Linked DNA regions of Homo sapiens. The protein of the gene in region 1 purifies or fractionates together with the protein of each later gene. This does not show direct contact. Each region holds a gene or a part of one and is shown on either strand. Other genes may lie near its edges.

Region 1 (2,753 bases):
AGAGAACATTTTGGATTTACTCGGCCATGTTCAAACCAGAAGTACACTTTTTGCTTATTTTTCCCAAGGGTTTGTCTTTCATAATCTTTACAAATAGGTTCTTGCAGCTGGGGGGCGGGTTGGAGGAGGGAGGTCCAGAGTGGTAATGTTACCTGTGCTTACGCCTGCAAATAAAGTTATTCAGGTAAATGTAGCGACAGAGTAAACAAGTGTAGTGTGGCCTAAGGAGCGCAAAATTCCTTACTTGTACAGAGGGAACGTGGCAGAGGGCCGGGCAAGTAGAAGGGGGTCTGTTTCTTTTTCTTGAGTAAATAAATTATTGGGAGGAGTGATTCTTTTCCTCCCTGGATGTTTCTTTGCAGGAACTCATGCAGCCAGAATCTGGGGCCAATGGAACAGTCATTGCTGAGTTCATCCTGCTGGGCTTGCTGGAGGCGCCAGGGCTGCAGCCAGTTGTCTTTGTGCTCTTCCTCTTTGCCTACCTGGTCACGGTCAGGGGCAACCTCAGCATCCTGGCAGCTGTCTTGGTGGAGCCCAAACTCCACACCCCCATGTACTTCTTCCTGGGGAACCTATCAGTGCTGGATGTTGGGTGCATCAGCGTCACTGTTCCATCAATGTTGAGTCGTCTCCTGTCCCGCAAGCGTGCAGTTCCCTGTGGGGCCTGCCTTACCCAGCTCTTCTTCTTCCATCTGTTCGTTGGAGTGGACTGCTTCCTGCTGACCGCCATGGCCTATGACCGATTCCTGGCCATCTGCCGGCCCCTCACCTACAGCACCCGCATGAGTCAGACAGTCCAGAGGATGTTGGTGGCTGCGTCCTGGGCTTGTGCTTTCACCAACGCACTGACCCACACTGTGGCCATGTCCACGCTCAACTTCTGTGGCCCCAATGTGATCAATCACTTCTACTGTGACCTCCCACAGCTCTTCCAGCTCTCCTGCTCCAGCACCCAACTCAATGAGCTGCTGCTTTTTGCTGTGGGTTTTATAATGGCAGGTACCCCCATGGCTCTCATTGTCATCTCCTATATCCACGTGGCAGCTGCAGTCCTGCGAATTCGCTCTGTAGAGGGCAGGAAGAAAGCCTTCTCCACATGTGGCTCCCACCTCACTGTGGTTGCCATATTCTATGGTTCAGGTATCTTTAACTATATGCGACTGGGTTCAACCAAGCTTTCAGACAAGGATAAAGCTGTTGGAATTTTCAACACTGTCATCAATCCCATGCTGAACCCAATCATCTACAGCTTCAGAAACCCTGATGTGCAGAGTGCCATCTGGAGGATGCTCACAGGGAGGCGGTCACTGGCTTGAGGAGGTCTCAATTGACCCTTTCTCCCTGTGTCTTGTACTAAAGGAAAAGTCTTCTAGAGCCAGAAACTAGGAAAAAAATGGTTCACACCTGTTTCTGTTTCATGGGCATAAGAAGGACTTTTTGTAGGGAATAATAGTTTTCATTTCTGAAAGCAGCCCTGTCCAATTATAAGCAATGAGTGTATAGGATCTGCCAAGCCAGCCCCTTAGACAAATTCAGCTTCAGGCACCGTGTTCTCTCCTTTCTGGCTAGAGGTGAAACCTAGGAAGCTGTGAGTGCTGACAGGTTCATGTTCCAGAAGGAATGACTCTTTGGTTGGTTACAGCCTTAGTTGCCAGAAGTACCCCAGAAAACTCCCCGCCAGAAGTCATATTTTTCCCTCAAGTTCAGGTGTGCTTGGTCTGTTTATAAAACATAGGTCTAGAGATTAGGATTGTTTTATTTCTCCCATCAGAACTCTAAAAGCAAAAATAAAACAAAAAGAAACAAAAACAAAAAAGTAGCTCTTTCTATTCCCATTAAACAAGGACCCCATAGCATAGACAGGGGACAGAGGGGAAGCTGTATGATTATGTATTCTCTAGTAATTCTGGAGCACCTGATACCTGTGTGCAGCTCACAGACTTGTTTCCAAATGCTAAAACTCCATTAATATGTATTATATATCTTATGTTACAAAAATGAATTTTCCTCATCTTTTTCTCCCATGTGTTTCAAATTTTTTGAAAAGATAAGAATTTATAATCTAAGCATTATTTACATATTTCAGAAAATCCAAGACTACTCAATATGAAAATTTCTCCAAAACTCTCACTCTTAGTCTCCAAACCTCCTTGCTGAGATAATCCATAACTATAAATGCAAGTCATATGGTGAGGAGTCACCCTGAATGTCCCTTCTCAGTAGGGGAGTGTGGCTCTGACCCAGAGCATTAGCTCAACTTGCTTGAAGTTAAACCAGCCATGATTTCGCTGTATCTTTTCAGCTTCCCATTTAGGACTCATTGCCCATTCCTGGCAACTCTGCTGTGCCACTGCTGTTTCCAAATGCATTTTCCTAAAACTTTCCTTTGACTGGCACCTGTGACTTGGCTTCTCTATAATATTTTATGGGGGTGAGGGATTGAATAGATGCAGTAAGATAGAGATAAAGAGAAAAGACACAAAAGAGGGAAGCAAAACAAGACTGGAGGAGGAGAGTTGGTAGGAAAATGAAGTGGAAAGATGAGGAATAGGGAGAACTGGGAGAGAATTGCAAGTGGAGGGGGTTAGGACCAAACGTGGTACACAGAATGGGAAATGAGAAAGAATGGAGGAATTGGATAAGATGCCTTGAGAGTATTGAAAGATCAGAGGAAGAAAGCGGGGGCATAAAATAAGTGGGTCACACATGAGAGATGTGGGCTTCCCATTCTATGTTTTCCAGCAATAACCAAT
Region 2 (2,723 bases), on another chromosome or scaffold:
TGTGCCCTCTGGCCAAGGCTGATGGTAGTTCTCTGAGTAATTGAGAGTCATTGCCTGTCTGTGCAGTATTGTGAAAACAAGTCACCTTTTAACTTTAAAACTACTTTAAAAAACTTTAAAGTTTTAAAAAAACTTCTTTAAAAACTACTCATGAGATGACAGTTTCTCTGACCCTCAGAGGAAGGCTGGGCTGCGCATACGTGAGGAATTTTTACATGAACATCCCAGGACTTGCTGTTCGCAGGTGATAAACTGCACCTCCCCAGGACTCCCGCTGCACTCACATGCAGCTCCCTGGACTTCTGGTATCTGACCCGGCCCATTTCTGTGTTTCAGGGGAGAATTTGGCTTGCGGGAGTACTCAGAAGTTAAGACGGTGACAGTAAAGATCCCCCAGAAGAACTCCTAAGAAGGCCAAGAAGGAGGATGAAGCCCAGCCTGCACGTCTGTCCCTCTCTGCTTTCTCTGTAGGGCCCAGCTCTCAGGAATACAAAGTTGAGCCACGGTCCTTACTTAAAGATTGAAAAGATAACATGTAGGCCAGGCAGGTCACTGCACAACTAAAGCAAACCAGCTGGGTACAGTTTCTTGGCACTCTGTAAGGGGCCACCTTAATCATACCAAATATTGGGGAAAGTGGGATAAAGGGAGGAGGAGGAGCTAGCAGACACATCCAGTATCTCCTTCTGGAGCACAGGATGAAATAAGGGAGCTGTATTATTTCATGTCTTTGTCACAAAGAACTTTCCTCTCAAGGAAAGGTGACCTTTCTCCTGTCTTCATTTTCCTCCTTCCAGGCCCTCCTCGCTCACCCACCCCTCCCTCTCTTCCAAGGAGATGTCAGCTGAGCTCATTCTGGGGCAGATGTTTGGGCCGGGAACAATTTTTCAAGGTTGTAAAGCCAAATTATCATTTCATGTTATCCATTTCTTCAAAGCAAAACATGAAATGGTTTTAGCTAGAGTCAGACCAGAATGAAAATGCCAGGAGCTGGTACACTACAGATGTAGTAAGAACCTGGGATATTCCTGACCCAATCTGGTTTTCTTTTACCCATAAATAACATGAATGAAAAAAGATTGGGACAATAGAGACTGGAAGTCATCATGTGCAGTTCACCGCTTCTGAGCTTGCTGCAGTTTTGGGGTGTGTGTGTATTAGATTCCTTCTCAGTTATTCTGGAATAAGGCAAGGAGTGGGTTGTTTTTCATAGCTAGATAAGATCTTTTCCAAAGTTTTTCTTAGAACCAACCAAAAAACAATCCGAGTAGGCCCAAGAATTTGATAATGCTGGATGCCTTGCAGACATCATTCAGTTTCTAATATTGGGCAACAATTATTATTAAATGAATTATTTCTGTAGTTGGAATCTGTACCTTCTGAACCTCTACACCAATAACTGCTGCAGGTGTGATTTTGGTCTGTCACACTGTACATCTATCATAATGTGCCCTGTATCTATTGGCAGTGACCTTGGAAAATCTGGCCAAGCCTAGGGGTTTCCTTTTCCATTTGCCAAGTTCCATTGTGCCAGGACTGCCGTGCTCCACTGAGCTCCTCTGTCACACCCCATTCTTGCCCCTCACTGGGCAGGCCATGGCCTACAGCTTGCAGGGAGTAAAGCAGGCCCGCCTCCCTTTCTTCCCATCCACATACTCCTCTTCTGCTTTCCAGTGACTCCACCAGTTTGATGTGGGAAGTGTTAGCTTCCTTTCCTTCTTCCATCCCTTCTTCCATCTTTCCAGCTGTCAAATCCAATCCAGTCTCTAACCTAAATGCAGATCATTTATTTAAAAGTACCAAACATAACCCAGAGTATGTGGAATATGGGCAACATATATATAGCCTTCTGTATTTAACGATCTTCTGCTTCTTAACCGTACCAGTTTTCTATTTATAACTCTTATCTATCCATGATGTTTTAAAGTCTCCACTTGCTGTTATTTACAAACGACAGTGCATTCAGCAGCCCAGTGCCGTGAGCCCTGACAGATGCCGTATTTCTGAGTGCTTCCATGTGAATGCTGCCCTCCTGTAGCATGTGTCCAAGTGGACATAGCCACTAACCAACTAGTTACCTTTGGACTGCAACAAAAAATGTGAAAATGAAGATTTATTTCTTTTAATTTACTTAAAAAGAAACCTCTGTGCTAGCAATAAAGCATTTATATTGTGTACTCCTTGGGATTGTTTGGCTGTGTCTGTAAGTCTTTGGGTCATACTGAGTCTCTTTGGGTCCTTCCTCAGCTGCTGGGTTTTTCAGCTGTGTTGCCCTCTTGGGTAACTGAGCAGAAGCCTGCAAGGGTATTTTTACAGAATTCATTAAGGCAACTGGTAAATGGTATTAAGGTAAACAAAAACCTTATTTTCTGATGCTATTTAAAATCTGTGTGCATGTGTAGTTTAGCTGGCATGTAAGTATAACCATATATGAAATATATGAAATAACAAGTTTCCTTTAGAATAGCCTCCATGAAAACTAAAATGCAGAGCAGTCTATAGGGTCTGTTTTCACAAACGTGGACTACCCGCCGTGAGCTCACATTGCTGATGGCATTTCACAGTAGCTTTATTTTTACTTACTTACCAAAGTGAAATGAAGTCAGAGGCTGATAACCTGATGGAATATTTTTGCAGCTGTAAAAAGAAATCTGTAAATGGTGACCGTACTACTACCAAGATTGAGCTTGTTTTCTCTCAGTGTGTTCTCAGAGTTGCGCTTT

Evidence for each region.
Region 2: the proteins of OR3A1 (region 1) and ALDH1A2 purify together in Homo sapiens (affinity purification with mass spectrometry; one large-scale study listed by BioGRID and IntAct). This does not show direct contact.

What each region holds. Positions count from the first base shown.
Region 1 is NC_000017.11:3,290,198-3,292,950, reverse strand, and holds the end of OR3A1 (olfactory receptor 3A1), read left to right. Parts: intron 1-362; 5' UTR 363-368; coding exon 369-1,316; 3' UTR 1,317-1,934; downstream 1,935-2,753. UniProt on the Homo sapiens protein: Odorant receptor.
Region 2 is NC_000015.10:57,952,883-57,955,605, reverse strand, and holds the end of ALDH1A2 (retinal dehydrogenase 2), read left to right. Parts: intron 1-336; coding exon 337-409; 3' UTR 410-2,177; downstream 2,178-2,723. UniProt on the Homo sapiens protein: Catalyzes the NAD-dependent oxidation of aldehyde substrates, such as all-trans-retinal and all-trans-13,14-dihydroretinal, to their corresponding carboxylic acids, all-trans-retinoate and all-trans-13,14-dihydroretinoate, respectively.